Linked DNA regions of Homo sapiens. The protein of the gene in region 7 purifies or fractionates together with the protein of the main gene of each other region. This does not show direct contact. Each region holds a gene or a part of one and is shown on either strand. Other genes may lie near its edges. The genes, in order: SLC6A3, ATE1, PPP2R5D, WDFY1, FAM219A, ABCB8 and GPR37.

Region 1 (3,500 bases), on a different chromosome or scaffold from region 7:
CTTTGGGAGGCTGAGACGGGCAGATCACCTGAGGTCAGGGGTTCAAGAACAGCCTGGCCAACATGATGAAACCCCATCTCTACTAAAAATACGAAATTAGCCAGGCACGGTGGCACGTGCCTATAATCCCAGCTACGTGGGAGGCTGAGGCAGGAGAATTGCTTGAACCCAGGAGGCGGAGGTTGCAGTGAGCCAAGATCATGCCACTGCACTCCAGCCTGGGCAAAAAGAGCAAAACTCCATCTCAAAAAAAAAAAAAAAACTTTGGTTGTTATATGGGCCAAAACCAGTTTTGACCAAGATACGACTCCTCCCTTGGAAAAGTGCGTGTAGTATGGCACCAGCCACGGGAGCCTCCCGCAGGGACACAGCCCAGAGCAGCCCTTCATCGTGCCACAGTGCCGTTCACCAGTGTGAATCCACTCACGTCCCACGCATCAGAAAACCCCCATCAGCCACTCCCAGCTACTCTGGCGGACCGAATGCAGAAAAGGAATGTGCTTTCCCTGCCAAGTTGTTCTTCCCTTTCCATCCCTGGGGAGGGTGTGCAGGACAGAAAGTGTCTGACCTTCTCACTCCAAGGAGCATTTGCTGAGCTGGCGTCCCAGGAAATGTTTGGGAATTGGGCCTCCCAATCAGAGGACAAGCCGTCAGGGCAACCCGGTGCCCTTGTGCCAGTGTCTGCTCCCACCAAGGGCCCTGCCTGTGCAGCCTGGTGACACTGTCCTCTCCTGCAGGTGGTATGGATCACAGCCACCATGCCATACGTGGTCCTCACTGCCCTGCTCCTGCGTGGGGTCACCCTCCCTGGAGCCATAGACGGCATCAGAGCATACCTGAGCGTTGACTTCTACCGGCTCTGCGAGGCGTCTGTGAGTACAGTCTGCTCACTGCTTCACAGTCCACAGGGGCTCTGGCATTCCCAGGTTTCCATATGCATTGCCTGCCAGGGCTGAGAGGTGTCAGAGTTGCAGACACCAGGGTTCTTTCCTCGGGAAGCCAAATCCCAAGTACCTGTGATACAGCACGAGTCATCTAAATCAAATTACATCAGAAACTCCATCTAGACTCAGGCTGCAGCTTTGGTCAGCAAAAGAAGACATAATTCAGGGTTAAAATATTTGGAGAAAGCCTCCCGGAGAGAGGAGACTCAGCTGGGCCATGGGGGATGGGACCCTTGTCCAGAAAGGGAGGAGAAAGGGCTGCACCCTTCCTGGCAAACAGGCCCAGAAACAGAAGCAGCTGTTGGCGGAAGGCTGGCATGACAAAAATGGCAGCTCCCTTGGGGCATCGTTGGAAATCAGGTGGACTAAGTGGGGGAGGTGGCAGGCCCCAAAGCCGCCCAGGGGCATCCATGTTGCTGTGGGAGGACAATGCAGCAAGAGGGGAAGGGCCATCTCAGCTGGGGTATGAGGCAGGAGGCCGTTGAGAGGTGCTGCCCTGTGTGGGTGGGCCGGTGGAGCCAGGTCTGGGGGTCATGAGGCAAGTGTAAACCCAAGGCAGAAGTGGGAAGGAAGGGGAGAAGGGATGGGCGGGCATGGCTGCAAGCCTCCCAGGAAGCCCCAGGGAGGCAGCAGCTGACAGGTGCAGTGAGAGAGGGCACCTGGACATGGCACCTATGAGGCTGCAAAGCAGTTGGGTGGGGGTGGGGGTGGAAGTGTGCCTGCAGCACTGAAGGGGAAGCCCTGTGGAGACAGGAGCCATGGGTGCAGCAGGCGTGTGGCCCACGGGAGCCAAGGAAGAGAGAGGAGGACAACCAGGGCAGCAAAATCAGCTGTGGCCGGGGGCCCACAAGTGCAGAGCTGGAGCCAGACAAACCATGAAGTCAGCAGGGCGTCTGGACCCCAGAAAGGCCAAAATGAAGCCAAGGGGTGTGTTTGCAGGACCATGGCATGTTACAGAATCAAAGAAAAATACCACAAGGACAACGTAGAGCCTAGTGCTCCAGCTAGGAAGAATAGGCAGCCCCAGGAGGAGGCAAAACAAACACCAGTGCATGTGAAAAGATGCTCACTGGAGAACAAATTACAAAGATGAGATGTCAGAAATTAGGTGGAGACAGTGAATAGATTGGATGGATGGATGGATGGATGGATGGATGGATGGATGGATGGATGAATGCTAGGTAAGTAGGTGGATAGGATGGATGGATGATAGGTGGGTAGATAGAATGGATAGATAGGATGGGTGGATGGAAGGCTGGCTGGCTGGATGTATGGATAATGGATGGGTGGATGGAGGAATGGATGATAGGTAGGTAGCTGGATAGTATGGATGGATGGATGATGGATGGATGGATGGATGGATGAATGGATGATGCATGGGTGAATGGGTGGATGAATGATAGGTAGCTAGATAGGATGGACAGATGGATAATGGATGGATGATGGATGGGATGGATGGGTGGATGGATGATGGGTGGATTGCTGGATGATGGATGGCTGGGTGGATGGATGAATGATAGGTAGGTAGCTGGATAGCATGGATGGATGGATGGATGGATGATGAATGGATGATGGATGGGTGAATGGGTGGATGAATGATAGGTAGGTAGCTAGATAGGATGGATGGATGGATGGATAATGGATGGATGACGGGTGGGTGGATGGATGATGGGTGGATTGCTGGATGATGGATGTTTGGGTGGATGGATGAATGATAGGTAGGTAGCTGGACAGCATGGATGGATGGATGGATGATGGATGGGTGGGTGGATGGATGGATGGATGGATGATGGGTGGATTGGTGGATGATGGACAGATGGGTGGATGGATGAATGATAGGTAGCTGGATAGCATGGATGGATGGATCGATGATGGATGGGTGGATGGATGGATGATGGATGGGTGGATGGATGGATGATAGGTAGGTAGATAGGATGGATATACAATAGGATGGATGGAGATAGATACATACACACACATGTACTTCATATATTCATAGATGATAGACAGTTGATAGATTATAGAGATGACAGATAGATGATAGATTGGTGATGGATTGATAGATGACAGTGATAGATGATAGATAGATAGATGATTGATTGATAGATAATAGATGATGGATTGATGTATAGTGAAGAGAAATCAGGAAAGAAATGGAAGGAAAGGACAATTGCAGGTCCTGGAGTGAAAGTGCATGAGGTGAGGCCCAGGGAGGCAGCCATGGGCACTGGCTCTGGTGTGGCACTGGGCAGAGGCCTGAGCTGCACACACAGATCAGGGTGAGGAGGAGGCAGGCGCTCCCCTGTGACACCTGATCCAGCCTGCAGCTACCTGGCCAGGCAGGTGGCTGATGACCAGCATGGGAGCCACATCAGGGTATGAGCCTCTCCACCCACTGCCCACCCAGCCACTCTCGGCTTGGCTCCTCCCCTCATGCTGAAACACTGGCCACCTGCAGAGTCCTGACTGCGGGGCCTGGCCATCTGCCTCCAAACACACTGTCCCAGGAACTGGGGTTGCCTTGAGGCTCTGACATGCTGCCCAAAGGACAGAGGG
Region 2 (3,500 bases), on a different chromosome or scaffold from region 7:
GAACTAATAAGCACAAAACATTTTGCTAAGTTTTCTGAAGAGACCAGCATGTTAAATCATTGGGGATATTTATTAAAGTTTGAAGGTCTGATGCAGTCTGATTGCAGTGAGGACTTAAATTTATGCTGTCATAGAGACTATTGACTAATCCTCAAATAAATATAATTAACTTCGATGTGTTTTTTTGAATGAAAATATATATAGTGTCATTCTTTATTTGTGCTGTGTGTATGCCCAACTAACAGCTGTGAAGTATGTACAAACTTTTCATTTATCCAATATGAGTGTTTTGGAATTTTAACCTAAACACTCCTATTTTTTTTTTTTTTTTTGAGATGGAGTCTCACTCTGTCGCCAGGGCTGGAGTGCAGTGGCGTGATCTTGGCTCACTGCAACCTCCGCCTCCCGAGTTCATGTGATTCTCCTGCTGCAGCCTCTTGAGTAGCTGGGATTACAGGCGCCCGCCACTATGCCCAGCTAAATTTTTGTATTTTTAGTAGAGATGGGGTTTCACCATGTTGGCCAGGCTGGTCTTGAACTCCTGACCTTGTGATTTGCCCGCCTTGGCCTCCCAGAGTGCTGGGATTACAGGCATGAGCCACCGTGCCCGGACACACACTCCTATTTTTAAACCTCACACTTTGAATTTAAAAAAGAAAAAAGGTTACCCTGCCGTAATTAACACACTACTTATTTTTTCAGGCATGTGGGCACATTCCATGACAGTACAGGATTATCAGGATCTCATAGACCGAGGATGGCGAAGGTAAAGCTTCCAGATACAAAGAGACTTCCTACTGTTACTCAGGTTCTTGAAAAATACAGCATGCCTTTGAAATGCTTTCCTGTTGGAAAGAGGTTTAAGAAAAATTTTTATTATATTCTTTTATGTAGTGATTTTTTGTCTCCTTTTTAAAAAACTTTGTTAGGAAAATGTCAAATATCTATAAAAGCAGAGAGTACATTAGAATGAACCTCAAGTACCTATCACTAAGCTTCAGCAGTTATTAACGTTCTGCCAATCATGTTTGATTCTCCTGCTCCACCTTTTAATATTTAACAGCAAATTACATCAGTAGGTTATTATGACATTTATCCTATCAATAGATAGGCAATAAGTATGTATCTCTAAGAGAGAGGTCTTTTTTTCTTTTTAACTTATCCACAATGCTGTATCACACCTTACAAAATTAATAAAAATTCTTTGATGTTACCTGTTACCTACTTTTTATTAGATTTTCCAGATTGTCTCAAAAATGTCTTCTTTAACAGTTTATTTGGATAAGGATTTCCTTAAAGTCCACACATGGCCTGTTTTGAGTAGTTATTTTTATGTGGATGATTTTTAAGTAACTCTTAGGTAAAGTTCCTTGTGTAAATATAAGTAATATTAAATACTGTACGCTAATACTTGCCAAAGACGTGGGATTGGGAGCACCAGCTGAAATATCACAACTTTCCTTAAACTTAATGAGATTCAAAAGGTAGACATAGGTCAGATTTTAAAGGACTTCACATGCCATGATAAGGAACTTTTTTTTTTAGAGACATGGTCTCGCTCTGTTGCCCAGGCTAGAGTCGCTCTCTTGCCCAGGCTAGAGTACAGTGCCATCATCATAGCTCACTGTAACCCCAAATTCCCACACTCAAGTGATCCTCTTGCCTCAGCCTCTGCAGTGGCTAGGACTACAGGTGTGCATCACAACACCTGGCTAATTTTTCAGTTTTTTGTAAGATCTTGGCTATGTTGCCCGTGCTGGTCTCGAACATCTGGTTGCAAGTGTTCTTCCAGCTTAGCTTTTCAAAGTGTTGGGATTATAGGTATGAACCACCATGCCTGGCCAGAACTTTTTAGAAGGCAGTCATGGAAGGATTTTATGGTAAGAGAGAAATGTGAAGGAATTTGTTTTAGAAAAGATTGTTCAGATGGCTGAGAGGTATTTGAGGGGGGGTCATAGAGGCAGGAAGATGAGTTCAAAGGTTATTGCGCTATCCAGATGTGCGATGATGAGGACTGTCACCTTAGTGGCAATGGTGATAGAGAAGAGGGGACAATTTAGGATAGGGTTTAAAATGAAGGAAAGCTTGCTAATAGGATATAGAGGTGAATTCCAGGGAGGAGTTTAAAATGACTCCCAGGTCTCTGACTTGAGAACAGAATGAACAGTTCTGTTAGTACCATAGACCTGGAATGCATGGAAAGAAGCGGGTTAGTTTTGGGGTACTCCGTGCTGGTGCATGTGGAATACCCAAGTGTGGTTGTCACAGGCATCACATACATGAGTCCCACAGCATCGTGGGCATTTCTCTCATTGCCCTTGTGGTATTGGGGATTGGTGGCAGGTGAAGGCAGAGCAGGGGTGGCAGATGCTGGTGAGAGGGGAACTGAGATGATTGGCCGTGGGGTACACAAGTAAAGCTTTAGGAAATAAAAGGCAGGGTTCTAAACTTTGCTACACGCACTTTGAAGATTATTTGGCTTATGAAGAGTAATTAAACCTACATGCATTTCTACAATGTTGATTAGATTTTTAACCTTAATTTAATGCTCCTGTGCTAGGCTGTTTTGGTGCAAGTGAAAAATATATAAGACATTAACAAACTATTTTTATAATTTTAGAAGTGGAAAATATGTGTACAAACCTGTCATGAATCAAACATGTTGTCCTCAGTACACAATAAGGTAAGAATTTTAATTAGTAGAAAGAGGATTTATAGTATGAAGATTGTGTATAATATTTTAGTAGTCTCTTGTGCTTTTTTAATGTTTATTTCCGCTCTAGGTAGATGTCCTTTAAAAGGAAAAGTAAATGAGTTATGTCTTTTCTTCATACTGATGCTGTATTTATGTGCTGATCAGTAGGTTTTAGTAATATTGTTTGATTGGTTCAGATATAAATATGTGAAAAAAATACCCTCTTAATTTAGCAATCTTGTCAATGAATGCCATGAAATATTGGGAAAATGTTGGTAAATATTCACATTACTTTTGGATATTAAATATTATAGGACTTAGCTTAGAATTTTCTGCATTCTGGTGTATTGCTTGACACAGTGCTTGTGTTCAAGCAATGCTACAGGCTCCTATAAATTACTTGGTAGGTTCACGTTCTCATGTTGTGGGATTCAGGAGGACAAGAGAGACCTCGGGTTAAAACAGGAGAAACTTTATTGAGTGCACTTAGGCCCAGCTGACTCAACGTCTAAAAGACTGGGCCCGGAACAAAGACTTTTATACACAGTTCACAGAAGGGGGTGGGCTAGCTTGAAGCAAGCTTACAGTGGCGTGAAAGCAGGGATACAGAGGCAGGACAAACTCAGGATTGCACATGACCGTTGCCAAGCAACCCAGATGTCCGTTATCTAGGTTTGCCTGGGCTTATCCCATAATCTTCACTATGGTGCCCAGGCAGCTGCAGTTCAGGCCTACTCAGGCTTCTCATGACATTCATTGTACTTCTCAGATAAAACAATACTTGAAGTCACTAGTTACAGAGAAC
Region 3 (3,500 bases), on a different chromosome or scaffold from region 7:
TAAGAGTTGGGCCCAAAACACAGGGCTGAGTCCAAACATGTTCTTTTAACCTCTGTGCTACACAGCATTTGACTACTGAGCTGGGCTGAAATGTGTGTGCTTCACCTGTTCTGCAGGAGCCAGGGAGCAAGGGTGGTAGGCCTGGTTCCTCCATGCCCACTCACACCCACACACTAAGGCAGCTGGATCTCTCTTAGGCTCATTCTTTGAAAGATACGTCTGAGGCATCATGCTGAGTGCTGTAGGGTGGGTGGAGGGGTACAAAAAAGAATAAGCAGCTTATGGTCTAATAGATTGGAGATGTATGAAGATGGGTCAGCTTTGTTCAAGGGGTTCATGTCTGGGGTGTGTGCAGACACCTCAATGTTGTGTCCTGCCTGCACCCTGCCCCCGGCCTATTTCTCTCCACCCCATGCTCTCAGCCACTGATAAGGGTCAGTGTGGCCAGCTGGGTTAGTATACAGCAGGAGCGTGCTCAGGCCAAAGAAGGAACTCCTTCCCCCTACTGCATGGAGCTGCTCTACACCACACCTTTCTTCCTCCCCACCTCCAAGAAGCCTTCCCCCTACTCCAGCCCACACAGAGCTCTCTTCTCCCTGAAATCCTTTTGCCCCCATAGTCACAATAACTCGATTTAACACTTCTCACTGAAGGGGCTTGGCTGCTATTGAATTGCACAATCTCAGAGCTGGAAGTGATTTCCAAGATCCTCCAGTCCTCATTAAAGGCTTGAATTTCTTTTGCAACATGCCTTACAGGAGGTCACCAAGCCCCTGCTTGAATGTTCTCAGGGGTTGGGGAGCTTTCGGCTTCACTAGGTGGCCAGTTTTAGTGCAATTGCTCCATGATAAAATTCTTCCTTGTTTGGAGCTTCAGGTGGCTTGCAACTTCAGCCCATTGCTCTCGTGCCTCTGGTCCATATGGACAAGTTGCATCCAAGGCATCCAAGTTGCATCTTCATTTGTTTAAGATCCATCTTGCTTCTCCATCCCTCATGACTCCTCCCTTCCATTGTTAACTATCCCAGTTCCTGCAGCTGTTGGTCTTGGGACATGCCTTTGAATCCACTCCCAGTATGGGTTGCATTTCCCTCTAAGAAACACTAGGATTTGTCATGGCCCCTCCCAAGCCTGATGCTCATGACTGAACCAGATCCTCCAGGATAGCCCTGTCAGTGCCAAGCAGTCTGCACAGGTCTTTTAACAAGATGGAAGGTCACATGAGCTGCACATGGATGATTTGTGTTGAGCTTGCAGTCAGACCTAAATCCCCAAGTCTTTTTCACATTTTCCCTATCCTGTCCCTGTGCAGTTGCTTTTTTTGGCTCGAAGCATAGGAAGAGATGCTGGGCAGGCCAGGGCTCTGAGCCAGCTGCCAGGTTCCCAAAGGAGACTTCAGACTAGTGCTCACTCTTTGTAACAGTTCAGGGTTTTACCCCCATCCCTGTCTTAGTGCTTGTCAACTGAGGTGCTCTTGGCATTTTGAGTGGGACAGTTCTGTACCTGTTAGCATTCCTGGGCCTTACTGATTAAATGCTGAGTAGCACCCTCTTGTCTGTGCGCTATTTGTGACATCCAAAAATTGCCTCCCAGTCTTTCCAGGTGGCTGTGAGGGGAGAGTGGTGACTCCCTGCACTCCAGCATGAAAGCCTCCGGCACACCTTTGACCACTTTAGCCAGAAACCAGTGAGCAGCTGTTCCCTGATGCTTTTTCTTTAAGCCTCCTCACCCTGGTTCTGACCTGAGCAAAGGCCCTCCCAGGCCCAACCTCTGCACCAGCCTGATGAGGTGAAAGATGGAGCATTCTCACGCTGAATTAGTGTGTGTTTGGGGTGACTTCCTAACCAGATTCTAAACTCTTTGGAGGGGCTGAATCTCCTTCTGCGTAGATCCCTCCACCCACCCCAGCTCCGCACAAGGTAGATTCTAATTGATTGATTCAACTGGACAGAGGATATTTGCAACAAAGATCTAAGGGAGCCAGATAAGACCTCTCCCTTCTCCTGGCATCTGCTAACTTTACTTTCATCTTTTCCTTTCAGGAGCCCCCCAAGGTTGCCAAATGCACAGCCAAGCCTAGCAGCTCGGGCAAGGATGGTGGAGGCGAGAACACTGAGGAGGTAATGAATGTAGGCGTAGCCTTAGATGTGGTGCAGGTGCCACCCGCAACTCCATGATGGCTAGTTGGGTAGGGGATCCCAGGGGGTGAGGCAGAAGGGAAGGCTTCCATATCCTGGGAGGGACCTGGACAGCCCATCCAGACTGCCCTCAGGCAGGATTTACCTTTGGTTGGTATAGACCAAATACATTCTCTAGTTCTTCAGACTCCCCAGAGATTCCTATGAAAGTTGTTTCTCTGCTTACCAACTTGGAATGTTGAGAATTCCTTTTTCTTAGGGCAAAAAGCGGGAGGTTCTGGGATCCTGGGCAAAAGGGGAAAAGTCCACAGACACTTGATGGGGTAACAAGTGACTTCAGCATGGCTCGGGTGGGGCAGGGGATTGGGAGGGGCTGGTGTCCCTGAGTTGGGCCCAGCTGGGCCCACTGCCCTTGGTCCTGATTGAATGGCAGCATGACTAAAAGACAGTCCTGAGCAGAGTTCAGCGCAGCTTAGCAATCTCGGGTTATAAAGCAATAAACAGCAAGCCGAGAGAACACCAGAAGAGGGAGAGACTTAAGGAAGTACACAGTATGTCCATGAAAGTTTGGGAGTGTGCACAGTGGGATGCTCTGGATGGTGAAAGATCCTGTGAACATACACAGCGAGCATCCACCACATCCTACCTGGAAACTGGTGTTTGGTGCTTTCTCTGCTTTCTCCCTCTGCTCTAAACTGTTCAGAGGGATGAAAGAGAACTGGAAACACAGCTCTCTAGTTATGGACAGGTCTTATGGTTTTTTGGGAGAAGAGATTGATGAGCAAATGTTTGGGGTTAACTATGCGTTTAGATGTTTCTCAGTACTTCTGGTGATAGGTCACCTCTAAAGAGATACAAGCACTTTTCACACCTCATTTTAGGCCTCATTTAAGTAATGAGAAGCTGAGTAGGTTTTCCCCATTTTATAGGCATGGAAGTTGAGGACCACAGAAGAGGAATTATTCTTTCCTCTGCACTTATGCAGTATTCTACTTTTTTTTTTTTTTTTTTTTTTTTTTTGAGATGGAGTCTCTCTCTTGTTGCCCAGGCTGGAGTGCAATGGTACGATCTCGGCTCACTGCAACCTCCACCTCCCGGGTTCAAGCAATTCTCCTGCCTCAGCCTCCTGAGTAGCTGGGATTACAGGCGCATGCCACCATGCTTGGCTAATTTTTTTGTATTTTTAGTAGAGACGGTGTTTCACCATGTTGGCCAGGCTGGACTTGAACTCCTGACCTCAGGTGATCCACCCGCCTCAGCCTCCCAAAGTGCTGGGATTACAGGCGTGAGCCACTGCACCCGGCCCTTATGCGGTATTCTAAATATCTCCTTAATAATCCTTATCACTCAGCTCTGTGACGAT
Region 4 (3,500 bases), on a different chromosome or scaffold from region 7:
AGTGTTTTGAGCAAAGTAGTATGTGGTTGACAAAGAAAAATGAATAAAGAGATTATTTCACCATGAAGTATGACAAAAATACATCATGAAATCAGTATATATGTGCTAATAATGTCTTAACAACTCTCAGAAAGATTTGCTGAGCATACTTTGTAGAGAGGGAAGATGAATACCTAAATTCTAGAAACAAGTATCATTCATTATATTACCATCTGCTTCTTAGGAAAGAACTAGCAGATTATTAAAGCTAAACACAGCAGAGGAAATGTCTACTGTGCAGAAATGGTTAAGTCTGTATCATTCAACCAGTAGCTAGTTATGCAGTACCTGGTGGAGTACAGACTATGTGGGAAGATAAGATGAATAAACACAAAGCAACAGGAACTAATACCTGATTGTAATTAACTAGGCATCATCAGTAATATACTAGGAGTGTTGAAGGAAGCTCAGAAAGGACAGAGAATGATGGGCTGGGAAGAATTATTCAATGGAGGAGGTGGAACTTGAAGTGGATCTAGGAGATGAAGGAGGGTCTGAATACAGGAGAGAGGGCAAGTGAGGTTCCTGGTGAGGGAGGCAAAGGCACCCAGGTGGGAAATGTACCAGGTGTGAGTGGGACAGAACACACACTGACTTCACTGGACACAAAAGAACCATAATAAATGAGAGATAGAAGGTGGAAATAAAGCTTAGCAGGGAGCAGTTATGGGGTTCCCAAAGTCCTTTTTTTTTTTTTTTTTTTTGGGGACAGAGTCTTGCTTTATTGCCCAAGCTGGAGGGCAGCAGCATGATCTTGGCTCACTGCAACCTATGCCCCTTGGGTTCAAGCAATTCTCGTGCCTCAGCCCAGCTTCTTGGGAGGATTACAGGCATGAGCCCCTACACCTGGCTAATTTTTGTATTTTTAGTAGAGACAGAGTTTGACTATGTTGGCCAGGCTGGTCTCTAACTCCTGGCCTCAAGCAATCTGCCTGCCTCAGCTTCCCCATGTTCTGTGATTACAGGCATGAGCCACTGCGCCCGGCCCCCAAAGTCCTTTTACAGACATGATTAAATAAGGAGCTAATGAAAGGTCATGAGCAGGAAAAAGACACAATAAAAGCCTAGTTAAAGATAGGAGATTAGTGGGACAGATCCAAGTACAGTATGCTGGAACTCAGGGAAGCCAGTTAATAGGCTTTGAAAAATGAGGTTTAAAAGATGATGAGGACAAACACTAGGGTAATTATGGGCAGGTGGGCAGAAAAGAGTTCCCACAGCAGGCCTGCTGCTGCTGTCCTTAGAAAGTCTTGCTTGCAAGGTTGGCCCTTGGCAGGTGTCTGGGACCTTGTTTATCCAGAGGGGACCTCACCATTCCCTAACTCCTAAGAATGGCTCACTGTGCTTCATGCCTGTATAAAATATGTGGTTTATGTTGACCACCTACCTTCCTTCTGAGAGTTTGGAATTTTGGAACATTAGCCAAGGGCACCTACATGACCAGCCTCTAACACTGAATAAAGTCTCTAAGGAGCTTCCCTGATAAACAATATTTCACACATGTTGTCTTAATTCAATCTGAATTAGCCTGTCCTGTGACTCCACAGGAAGAGGACTCTTGGAAGCCTTGTGTCTGGTTTCCTCTGGATTTCACCCCATGTGCTGATTTTGTTTTGCGTCTTTTGGCTATGATAAATCACAGCCATGCGTATGACTATAATGTGTCAATCTTTCTAGTGAATCAATGAACCCGATCTTGAGGATCTCAAATATAGCAGGGGAAAGATGTCTAAGTGAAACTAATCACTGACATGACCTGCAAGTAACCAAATATGGAAATAAAGAAAAGGCATGACTCAAAGGCAGTTCTAAGAATTTAGGATTGTAAATAACCCCTCAAATGGTATTGTCCTATTCAAACAGGAAAAATTTTTTTATTTTCACTTATTCACGTGCACACACAAACATGCATACAAAGTAGAAACATATTACTCTTTCGTAAGATTAAAGTAACAAAATGCAAAATAAGTGGAAATGAAAATAATAATAGCTAACACTTGTATAGTGCTTTCTCTGTCCCAGTCTTTAAGATTAAAGCAATTAAATGGAAAATAAATGGGAATGAAAACAATAACAACTAACACTTGCATAATGTTTTCTCTGTGCTAGGCACTGTTCCACGTGGTTTAATTCACCTAATCCTCACAAAACTCTGTAAAGCAGGTACAAAACGGACTCATGTCCATTTTGCACATGAGAAAACTGTGATACAGTGAGGTTAAATAACTTGTCTAAGATCACAGGGCTGGGATTCAAACTGAGGCATTCTGGCTCCCAAGCCTTTGTTCTTAACTATGCTATAAAAAGAAAATGATTGTAACAATGAAGGATCACCCTAACAATACAGGAGTAAATGTGTGGGGTGGCCACCCAGGCTTCCTGCCTTCTCAAGTCTTCAGTTTATTTTATAACACAAATTAAAGTCTACTTTTAGGCTCTGCATGACAATGAAAATACAGCAGTTAACATCCTGGTTTTCTGTATTAACTAATGAATTCCAGCTATGCCAGCCTTCCTCCCAGGCATAACACTTAAAAATCAAGTTATTTATTTAAGATTGTTTCTATGTGAACAATTGGTAAATACACAAATTTTTCCCCAAACCATCTTAATAAACTTAGATATATCTAAGTGGAAGCAAATATATTACATATTTGGTATAATTTTTAAAAAAGGAAAATGCTAAAAAACATCTAAAAGTTGGTTTTCTGTAATCTTTACTCTTTCCCAGCCTAAGTGCAACATCTCAAAACATTTTAAATCACATGAGATTTATCTTTAACTTGGGACAAACAAAATTGAGTTTCCTGCAGAAACCAATCTTGGCCTACGAGCCCCTAATGCAACAGTATAAGTACGTCCATCCACAAACTCTATTTCTCAAAAGTGAAGACAGTAGGCCTATAGCCTTAACTTATTTATAAGGCTTTATAAAGCTTTTACCTTTTAAAAATTGTATCATTCAATCAACTGACTGTCTACATTTTTGGTGCAGTCCACAGCAAAAAAGTCCAAAAAGCAAACATACTGGTTCCTACTGTCTCACCATTTTAGTTCCGCTCTGAAAGCAGAGTCTTATTTTCTGTTTCCCCTACCAGGAAAGTCACCACTGTAGTTCAAATTCTTAAACTTAAATTTAAATTAAAGAGCTTAAGGTAATTATTACTTCAGCAAAATACTAATGACTTCATACAAGAAGTAGTACCATTTTCTATTAACCATTCACGAGACATTAATCCATAAAGGTTTCTAAGCAGAACCCTAAGCTGACCACCCAAACCACTAATGACCTGTGACTCCCAGGTGTAATGGCATTAAGCTTTGATATTCCACATTGGCTTAATACTCTTTGGAGTGCTGACCGTATCTAGCTTTGTCATATGCAGTTTGATTACAGTGAACTAGGTGGCTATCTGTGAATGACCCCAGGTAAATATATCCCAGAAGGTGACAAAAAAAAA
Region 5 (3,500 bases), on a different chromosome or scaffold from region 7:
GTACTTGATGCCAGGGAAAGGCTGGCGGGGGAGAGACAATCACAGAAGGATGGCGCAGTCAGAGAGGGCTTCCTTTAGGTGACACCATGACCTGGAGAGAGGTGGACATTCTAGGAAGGAGGGATAGTGTGTGCAAAAATGCATTTAAAAGTGAGCATAAGTGTGGCTCTGGATAGAGGGGTGAAGAGAGAGGTCAGGTTAGAGAAGTAAAATTCATTTATTCAGCCACTTATTCAACAAATATCCATGTCACTAATTATAAGTCTGGTCCTGTGCTAAGGGGCCGAAGACCCTCTCTGGTTACAAACTCAGAACATGAAGGACTTGAATGCCAGACAGAGGAGTTTGGGATTAACGCAGAAGGAAGAAGAAGCCACTGAAGGTTATGGTGTGGGAGGTGCAGGATGGGGCTACAAAGTAAGGGGCAGAAGGCTGGGGGAGCCCATTTGGCTACGCTGCCTGAGTGGTGCTCCTGACTCCTTTGCCAAGGTCTGAGTTCTCCAAGGTTCCAAAGCCTACCAGCTTCATGGAGCTGGCCATCAGGTGACCCAGTCCACTGCCTGGTATGTGACAACTGTTACCAGAAGTAGCTTCCTGGGTCTTGGAGGAGTCCCATCTACTCTTCCCTACTCATCTCAAGTAAAGGCCAGATCTAGGAAAAGGAACTGTTAGGTGGAGAGGGACACTAGGGAAAATGACTCATAAAATAGCCAAATGCTCCAGAGGGTAAGGATGGGAAGGACCTTTACAGCTACTGTGACTCACTTGGAAATTTCCCCTGACCTCATGTCTCTGAATCTCTGTCTTCTACTCTTTGACCCTCTTTCTTTGCCAGTGCTCAGCTGATTCCAGCTTTTTCCCAGCTTCTTTCCAGCAGGTGGCAGCTGCCATTACCACTCCAGGCCTCTAGGGGGTGCAATTTGCCTTAAAGTTCCTGGTGGTACTAGGTGCAACTGGGACAATGCTGTGAATTTTCATGAGGAGCTTTGATGGTAATGTAATGGGGAGAAAAAAAGATGTTATTTTAAAAGCATGCTGAAATTGTTTGAAATAGTGGGAAAAAAGCAAACAATAAACTGGCAAAACCAAACTAAAGACTACTATACAACCATTTAAAAGAATGAAGTCACAATATGATGACATTGGAAGGAGCTCCAAGATTTAGGTGGTGGAAGAGGGAAGGCCAAGTTTCAGAAAATGTGCACAATATGATACCACTTATGTTAAAATACAAAGTAAAACTACAAAAACTGAAAAGGCTTGGAATGGTTACCTCTTAGGAGGAGAATGTGATGGGGGAGAGTAAAGAAGTTATGCTTGTTAAAATATTTGTATTGTGATATTAAACAATAATAGGCTGGGTATGGTGGCTCATGCCTGTAATCCCAGCACTCTGGGAGGCCGAGGTGGGCGGATCACTTGAGACCAGGAGTTCCAGACCAGCCTGGCCAACATGGCGAAAGCCTATCTTTACTAAAAATACAAAAATTAGCTGGGCGTGGTGATGCGCGCCTATAATCCCAGCTACTTGAGAGGCTGAGGCAGGAGAATCGCTTGAACCAGGGAAGCGGAGGTTGCAGTGAGCCAAGATCATGCCACTGCACTCCAGCCTGGACAACAGAGAGAGACTCTGTCTCAAAACAACAACAACAACAACAACAACAACAACCAACACCCCTGATAAATAAAATTGGCTGCAGTTTTAATCTGATGTCCTAGGAATAGAAACAAATTCCAAGGAGAGGACTATTCTTGTTTAGAAAAACAGCTCGAGGGGCTCCCTGGATGTGGTCTGGAAGGACAGAAGCAAGCAAGGTAAGAAAAAAAAATAGTAGTTGAATAATAAAATACAGGCCTCTGTGGAAAGGAAGGAGAAAGTTGTAGGCAAAGGGCCCTTAGGACTGAGGAGGCATCAGTAATTGTTGGGCAGCTGGAGCCTGAGGAGGAGGATGGACAGGAGGGTGGCCTTGATGGCAGAGGAACTTGGAAGGATAGTAATGACCTATATTTAATTGTAAATTCTTTCCTGTATGTCCTGTTTTGTAATTTCTCTTCAAGAAACCAAAGTTTTCATAAAAGTGTGTTATATACAGCAGCCATGAGACAGTGAAACTTTGGTCCCTGAAGGGAGAGGGACAGCCCATGAGGTGAAGGGAGGGCAATAGTGGTAGGAGCTGTGGACAGTGGCCAGAAGCGAGGGGACTTCACAGGATCAGGCTGCACAGTAAACTGACTTTGGAATGGACATGAGACAAAGCCACAAGGGAAATGTGACCCAGAAAGGAAGGGAGATATTTGGGTTTTCTAAGAAACGAAGGGAAAACTCCCCCAGATAGGTGCCAACTGGGCCCAGAGATCTCTAGATGGGCTGAGATTGTAATCGGGAGAGGGGCTCGGCTTCTAGGGTTGGAACTCTCTTTCCTTTCTATCCCTTAGACATAACAAGTAACATCCCACTTCTAAGGCAGCTTCCTCTCAGCCTGATCCAGTGTTTGATGGGACTTCCAAGTCCTCTCTCTGGGGTTCCATGCTTTTCCCCCTGCAGCTATGCCCCAGAATACCTGGAACGTTCTTGGCTTCAGAGATGCCTCTTAGAGTTTCAGGCTCCTGCAGAGAACTGTAACTGCCCTCTTTGCCTGCAGGAGACAAGGTGCCTCGCAGTGCCAATGACTTGAAGGCTTGAGTCTTGGAATCATCTAGGCTGAGCTGGTTTATTTGTGGCACCTCATTGTAGACCCAGCCCAGAGTATCTTGCCTACTCCCCACATCTCCCTCACCCCCCAGACACACTCACCCAGCTTCACTTGGAGCGGGGATGGTTTGTAATTCATGGCTACTGACTCACCCTCCCGGGCGTCACAGTCTCCGTCAGAGATGGAGGCGGCGGCTGGGTCCTGTGGGGAGAAAGCAGTAAGACAGAGAGTTGTTAGGGAGTGAAGACAGGGGGCTGCTCTCAGTCCTGAAGCTAGCCTTCCCACCTGCCCTCTGGGCTTCTGTGAGCATTCACCCCTCAGAGCAGGCAGGGCATTCAGGGAGAGAGGGGCAGACCCATCTACCGTGGGACAAAAACACTGGGCTAGGTAGAAGAACCAAGGATCTGGGTTCCATGTACACCCAACTTGGTGTCTGTCCTCAAAGTCCTGTGTGGTCCAGCCTCCTCCAGAAAGCCCATCATGATTTCTTTAAACTCACAGGACTTCCTTCTCCTAACTCCCATACTAGTAGCCCTTCCCCTCAGGCCCTTCCTGTGTACTTGCTTGGCAAGGTCTTCCTAGGTTCCTGTGAGTTTAAGTCTGGGTTAAGGGGAGAGCAGGTGCTGTCTGAGATGGGTCTTCTCCCTCTGTTTCCCTGTGCTGGACAGGTCCCTTCACAGGATCCAGAGAACTGACTGACCAAGCCACACCAGCCTTCAAGGCTACAGCCACTGGACAAAAAAATAGTTCTAATGAGGACTTCTCCAGTTCACAAATGACACCTAAAGAGTGTCTCCGGGGAGAACC
Region 6 (3,500 bases), about 26 Mb from region 7:
GCAGTGACCTGAGATTGCGCCACTGCACCCCAGCCTGGCAACAGCAAGACTCCGTCTCAAAAAAAAAAAAAGAAGCCCAGTGGCTCCCTTAATAAAATCACCCCTTAGCCCTCTGTGGTGGGCAGTGGTGGGACAGTCTCCCTGTGGGGAGGGTGGCTGCACTGTCCAGCCCCAACCCTCCCGCTTCGGGACCCCCACTTCCCCTTTAGGGCCTGAGACTCTGACTTTACCTCCCACCGTACTGCTTGGCCATCCAGCAGCTTTATGACACACACAAGAACCCCCAGGGGCTTGTCTGTGCTGTTTCGCTGGCTGCTCCCACAGCCACAGGCCCTAGACCCATCCTCTTGGAGGTCCTTCTAGCGCTGCCTATGTGGAGATTCTTCCCCACTCATCTTGGGGGTTTGGATTTGTTGCATAAAGCAGCTGATGTGTTTCCCACAGGGTCCTGCCAGCTAAGCCAAGGGCCCATGCATTGGCACTGGGGTCTAGCAGAGAGAGGGGAGCAGGATGGCCCGGCCTACCTCAGGCAGCCTAACCTATGAGCCCATCCTGAGTACTCCTGATGGAGATGGGGAGGTGCCCAGACAGACAGCAAGTGGGGCCCAGCCGCCTCATCAGAATCAGGGCCAGGCTCCACCTGGGAACAGGCCCGTAGCCTACAGCCCACGGCCCCTGAGAGCAGGGTCATCACACTCCAATGAGTCATGTGCATTTTGAATTTCAGTTGCTGCCCAGCCCCTTTGCCAGGCCCTAATGTCTTCCAGATCTCTGGTGGAGAATGTGCCCCTGCTCATCAACAGATAGCTGGCTGGGCTGGCTCCTTCCTGCCTGGTGCCTCCCCCGGCTGCCTTTAGCAAGTGCTGACTGCACTGAGTCCACTGGGACCTTTTCCTTTTGGGTTTCGAGGCTCCTCCCACTCACCCCCACCCTAGTGCTGGAAGAAGTGAGTCTGCAGCTGAAGGGTTGCTGGGGAGTCAGTCTTTCCTCTTACTTAGGAGGGGACCAGGCATACACACACTGTCACAGGTCAGCCAGGCCAGTCAGGGACCAGTGACTCACCTTCCTCCTCAGCCTCCTGGCAGCCGGCCAGCCCTACCCCGGCCCTGCCGGGACGAAGGAGGCCACCCACTGTCTAGACAGATAACACTGTGGGTATACTTATCTGCAGGGCAAGCTCATGAGAAAAATTTTTTTCAGGGAATTTTGTTTTGGGGTCTCCTGAGAGTTCCCCTGTGGCCCAGTGTCTTCTGTTTTCTTCTTTCTCCAAAAAGATTTAACATCACTTCTTCCACCTAAATGTCTGCCAAAGTCATTGCTTCCCCAAGAGTCTGCAGCATTAGATCTGCTCTCCCCTTCTAAGCCACGCACCCTTGATCTCTGTTCATGGTGGCGGCCTCCGCATCCTCAGGGCCGAGCAGGGAGTCCGTGGGTCAGCTGGGCTCCCTTCCTCGTGGGCTGATATCACCGCTGCATGTGTGCACAGGCCTCACCCTGCAGACCACAGGCCAGGGCACTGGAGGACACCCACAGAGGCCTGTGCCTTCACTTCCATTTCCTCGTGGAGCACCCCCTCCCAGGGGCTTGGGCTGAGCTGAGGGACAGCTGTCATCCTCATCTGGCCAAGGAGGGAGCCAGGGCTCAGCGATCTGGTGTTGCTACGTCCCAGGGCTCTACGCCCCCATGGTGCAGGAGCAGTCTCTGCATTTGGCCACAGGCCACCTGCTTCCTTGCTCCCCCGCCCCACCGTGGCTTCCTTCCCCTCCTCTGGCTCTTCTTGTTCCCATCTATTCCACCCCTCTCTCCTTTTTCTGACAGGTCCATGGCCAACCTCTCTGTCCTGTTTGGGCAGGTGAGTGGCCGGTAGGGTGGAGGGCCTGGGGTGTGGAGTTTGTGCCGTGTGTGCCGCTGTGGGAGCTGCCTATTGACTGGGTGTGGGCGGGCAGAGGAGCTGGGGAGACCCCAGCCCAGAGCCATGGCCACTCCCTGGAGATGCTGTTGTCACCCCTACTCCTGCCTCCCTGCGGACTTTGGATCCCCTCCCACAGGTGGTCCGGGGGCTGAGTGCAGGTGCCCGGGTCTTTGAGTACATGGCCCTGAACCCCTGCATCCCACTGTCTGGGGGCTGCTGCGTCCCCAAAGAGCAGCTGCGTGGCTCCGTTACATTTCAGAACGTCTGCTTCAGGTCAGCACGGGTGAGCAGGCGTGGGGATGGGTCCCTGGGCCGGGGATGAGGCGAGTGGATTCGGGGGTGGAGGTCTGGACTAATGTCCCCCATAAACAGGCCCTCTCAGAGGGCTACAGGGAGACTTCAGGAGGGACCCGGGCAACAAGGGCTGGGAGCCTGGTCTGACTGGGGGTCTCTCGGCTCCTCCCAGCTACCCCTGCCGCCCCGGCTTCGAGGTGCTGAAAGACTTCACCCTGACGCTGCCCCCTGGCAAGATCGTGGCCCTCGTGGGCCAGTCTGGCGGAGGTAAGGGGAGCCCACCACCTCTTCACCCTCTGACTCTTCTCTAGCAGCCACTCAGAGCAAGGCCGGGAGCAGTGAGCCCCCGGTGGGGTCCCTTCCTCCACTGCCACAAGGGGCCTTCTTTCCTGGGACAATCCCTAGAATCCCTGGCCTCCCTCCCTCTCAACCCAATTCCCCAGGAAAGACCACCGTGGCTTCCCTGCTGGAGCGCTTCTACGACCCCACGGCAGGCGTGGTGATGCTGGATGGGCGGGACCTGCGCACCCTTGACCCCTCCTGGCTCCGGGGCCAGGTTGTCGGCTTCATCAGCCAGGTGCGGGGCCACATGGGCAGCCCTTGGCTCCCACTGCCCGTCCTCCCCTGGGCCCTGCCCCCTTAGTCCTCAGGTGCCTTTTCTTTCTTTCCCACCCTCATCCTTGCTGCTCTCGGGAGACCCTGGCCGTCTTCACATGTCCTCAGCTGTTGTCTGGGTGAGGCATCCCTGTCGTGGGAGCAGCCACAGCTCTGCCTGGTCTCCCAGAGCAGGGACGCTTTGTCCGCATTTACAGCAGTCTACACAGATGGGGAATCCCTCAGATTCTCTGCAAATCCCATAGCATCCAGGTCTAGAGAAGCCTATAGTGGAGGTGCTGAGCTGCAGCCGTTCTCCCTCTGCTTGAGGTGGCACTGCCCAGCGAGGGTCCACCCTTCCCTTTGAGGGCCGTGAATGAAGAGGGCATGCCTGCTGTCCGCCAGGGAGAGTGCCTGTGCAGAAGAAAGGCAAATGCAAGCCCCCAACTCCCAGCGCCCTGCCCTGCCAGCTCCTCCCACTCCCACTCCTGGGGAGGGATTCTGGGCCCTTGGTAGGAAGTCGAACTGTCCTTCCCTTTTGGGGGCCACTCTGCATCCTCACTTCACCTCTGACTTTGAACGTCTGATTCTTCAAGAGATCCTAATCTAATCCACCAGATAGACTGTCCCATTGTGTATGGTGGCCCCTCCAGTTTCTGGGGCAAAGAGAATGTTTCTATGGACTCTGTCTCCATAACCC
Region 7 (2,704 bases):
TAGATGTCTGGACCATATGCTTATAAGAGCAGTGCCTTTTTGAATACAGTTTTTCATGTGGTTATTGTCAAAGAGTTTTATGCTCCAAAATTTTCCTGTGTTTGGGATATCTAGACATTCTTTTTGGCTATTTTCTGCATATTTTCTTGTATTTTTACATGTTCTATTTTAGTATCTCCTATTTCTTTAAATTTGATGTACATACCTATTTTATGATAAATATACTTCTTATGTCTGATTCTGTATCTTTGGCATATAAATTCATAGTGGCTCATTGTCTCTTGCATATTGTGACTTTTGATTTTGTGAACCCATGTCCCTTGAATTTTAACTATAGGATTTTTTGAGGCCTGGTTTTAAAGTGCATTCTTCCAGAGAGGATTTATGTTTGATTTTAACCAGGTGCCTGGGATTATTTTAAATTGTATTTTGGGTTTTCTGAGCCACGTAGATCCTGGAAATTCTGATCCTAACACCATGTAAGTTCAGGCTCCCAGTTAGAATTTGCCATTTTTTTCCCTCCTTTTCCCCCAGTTCATCCAGACCCAAACCCTGTCATCCAGGCAGATTTCTTCATTATCTCTCTCTCTTTTTTCCCTTTACACCTCTAAAGATGTCAGCATTTGAGGAGTTCCAAATTCACAGGGAGTCTTTGACCCAATCCCCACCCACATTGGCCCCAGCTCTGTTTCCTGTCTCTGTGCACCTGGGCACCTTGCCCCATTTTTCTAGCTAAAACTAACTTGAAACCCTCACCAGGATTGGCAGGTGCCCCTAGGGCAAACACGCAGCATGAAGAGGGAGGGGTCTCTGGCCTGTTTGAAATTTGTTTCCTTTTTGATTTTGGCCTCTGGAGAATTTCCCTTTCTTGTTTTCCGTAAGTGTATGCCTTTGAAAATAATACTGTAATACTTTATTTTGCATTTAGGAAAAATTGGAGGAGCCCTCCAATCATTTAGTCCATTGGAGACAATAAGCTCTTGAGTGTTTGCTGTGTGTAAGGCACACTACTGACCCTCACACTGGAAAACATGAGCATCCTGGTCAGCAATGAAAATGGGAATTTCTGCACTACCCTGACTCCTTATCTAGATCTCCTAGTGGCAGACATTTTCGTGGTGAATAAAATTTTTAGTGTATCTGGGTTCTGATCTATAATAAAAAGGGATTGGACTAGCTGATCTTTATGGATCCTTCCAGTCCTAAATGTTCTGCACTCCATGACCCTCAAACCACTACAGTGTGTTTTCTTTTTTTATGCTTACAATGATTCAGCTGACGTCCTGAGCCCAGTTACCCATGCCTCATTCTGGAAAACTGTTCTCTCTCTCTCTCTCATTTTTATTTATCCATATTTTTTTTTACAGTTTTGCCAATCTGCATTTATTTCCTAGTGCTTTGATCTTTCGGGGGACACCGGGAATAAATGTCTTCTATGTTCCCCCACAGGTCGCTTCTCTGGGAGTCACCACTTTCACCTTATGTGCTCTGTGCATAGACCGCTTCCGTGCTGCCACCAACGTACAGATGTACTACGAAATGATCGAAAACTGTTCCTCAACAACTGCCAAACTTGCTGTTATATGGGTGGGAGCTCTATTGTTAGCACTTCCAGAAGTTGTTCTCCGCCAGCTGAGCAAGGAGGATTTGGGGTTTAGTGGCCGAGCTCCGGCAGAAAGGTGCATTATTAAGATCTCTCCTGATTTACCAGACACCATCTATGTTCTAGCCCTCACCTACGACAGTGCGAGACTGTGGTGGTATTTTGGCTGTTACTTTTGTTTGCCCACGCTTTTCACCATCACCTGCTCTCTAGTGACTGCGAGGAAAATCCGCAAAGCAGAGAAAGCCTGTACCCGAGGGAATAAACGGCAGATTCAACTAGAGAGTCAGATGAACTGTACAGTAGTGGCACTGACCATTTTATATGGATTTTGCATTATTCCTGAAAATATCTGCAACATTGTTACTGCCTACATGGCTACAGGGGTTTCACAGCAGACAATGGACCTCCTTAATATCATCAGCCAGTTCCTTTTGTTCTTTAAGTCCTGTGTCACCCCAGTCCTCCTTTTCTGTCTCTGCAAACCCTTCAGTCGGGCCTTCATGGAGTGCTGCTGCTGTTGCTGTGAGGAATGCATTCAGAAGTCTTCAACGGTGACCAGTGATGACAATGACAACGAGTACACCACGGAACTCGAACTCTCGCCTTTCAGTACCATACGCCGTGAAATGTCCACTTTTGCTTCTGTCGGAACTCATTGCTGAAGGACAGTACTTGGTTGGGTCAGATTTATTTGTTTGATTTTCATATCCCGTGAAAGTTTTTAATTCATATTTTTCCTTATAGGGAAAAATGCAAAAAAGAAACAATAAAGAAAGAAATATTAACTACTGTAGAACTGATTTTACAAATTAATATTTGTGCTTTGAAAAAAAGTTTCTATTTAGTTATTTAAGAAGAATGAGAAGGCCAATAGTTTTAGATTATTTTATCTGGTATGGTGCTAATATTTTATTTGAAAAAAGTTACTGCAACTTAACTTAAAATTGCTAACGTTTTTTCTTCTTTTAAAAATACAATTATTGTATATTGATTATAGCAATGTGATTTTGTAGGTTATTTTATATTTGAGTTGTGATTGAAAGTATGTTGTATATGGTATTGTGAGATGATTTGTACTTGGAAGCATTCACAAAGTAG

What was found.
Region 1: the proteins of GPR37 (region 7) and SLC6A3 purify together in Homo sapiens (co-immunoprecipitation; one study listed by IntAct). This does not show direct contact.
Region 2: the proteins of GPR37 (region 7) and ATE1 purify together in Homo sapiens (affinity purification with mass spectrometry; 2 studies listed by BioGRID and IntAct, with this or other methods). This does not show direct contact.
Region 3: the proteins of GPR37 (region 7) and PPP2R5D purify together in Homo sapiens (affinity purification with mass spectrometry; 2 studies listed by BioGRID and IntAct, with this or other methods). This does not show direct contact.
Region 4: the proteins of GPR37 (region 7) and WDFY1 purify together in Homo sapiens (affinity purification with mass spectrometry; 2 studies listed by BioGRID and IntAct, with this or other methods). This does not show direct contact.
Region 5: the proteins of GPR37 (region 7) and FAM219A purify together in Homo sapiens (affinity purification with mass spectrometry; 2 studies listed by BioGRID and IntAct, with this or other methods). This does not show direct contact.
Region 6: the proteins of GPR37 (region 7) and ABCB8 purify together in Homo sapiens (affinity purification with mass spectrometry; one large-scale study listed by BioGRID and IntAct). This does not show direct contact.

The regions. Positions count from the first base shown.
Region 1 is NC_000005.10:1,417,941-1,421,440, reverse strand, and holds part of SLC6A3 (sodium-dependent dopamine transporter), read left to right. Parts: intron 1-737; coding exon 738-872; intron 873-3,500. UniProt on the Homo sapiens protein: Mediates sodium- and chloride-dependent transport of dopamine. Also mediates sodium- and chloride-dependent transport of norepinephrine (also known as noradrenaline). Regulator of light-dependent retinal hyaloid vessel regression, downstream of OPN5 signaling.
Region 2 is NC_000010.11:121,921,532-121,925,031, reverse strand, and holds part of ATE1 (arginyl-tRNA--protein transferase 1), read left to right. Parts: intron 1-702; coding exon 703-766; intron 767-2,620; coding exon 2,621-2,683; intron 2,684-3,500. UniProt on the Homo sapiens protein: Involved in the post-translational conjugation of arginine to the N-terminal aspartate or glutamate of a protein. This arginylation is required for degradation of the protein via the ubiquitin pathway. Does not arginylate cysteine residues.
Region 3 is NC_000006.12:42,987,570-42,991,069, forward strand, and holds part of PPP2R5D (serine/threonine-protein phosphatase 2A 56 kDa regulatory subunit delta isoform), read left to right. Parts: intron 1-2,041; coding exon 2,042-2,119; intron 2,120-3,500. UniProt on the Homo sapiens protein: The B regulatory subunit might modulate substrate selectivity and catalytic activity, and might also direct the localization of the catalytic enzyme to a particular subcellular compartment.
Region 4 is NC_000002.12:223,935,336-223,938,835, forward strand, and holds part of WDFY1 (WD repeat and FYVE domain-containing protein 1), read right to left. Parts: intron 1-3,500. UniProt on the Homo sapiens protein: Positively regulates TLR3- and TLR4-mediated signaling pathways by bridging the interaction between TLR3 or TLR4 and TICAM1.
Region 5 is NC_000009.12:34,403,071-34,406,570, forward strand, and holds part of FAM219A (protein FAM219A), read right to left. Parts: intron 2,895-3,500; coding exon 2,795-2,894; intron 1-2,794.
Region 6 is NC_000007.14:151,038,450-151,041,949, forward strand, and holds part of ABCB8 (mitochondrial potassium channel ATP-binding subunit), read left to right. Parts: intron 1-1,818; coding exon 1,819-1,852; intron 1,853-2,048; coding exon 2,049-2,185; intron 2,186-2,378; coding exon 2,379-2,473; intron 2,474-2,649; coding exon 2,650-2,783; intron 2,784-3,500. UniProt on the Homo sapiens protein: ATP-binding subunit of the mitochondrial ATP-gated potassium channel (mitoK(ATP)). Together with pore-forming subunit CCDC51/MITOK of the mitoK(ATP) channel, mediates ATP-dependent potassium currents across the mitochondrial inner membrane.
Region 7 is NC_000007.14:124,746,089-124,748,792, reverse strand, and holds part of GPR37 (prosaposin receptor GPR37 precursor), read left to right. Parts: intron 1-1,449; coding exon 1,450-2,268; 3' UTR 2,269-2,704.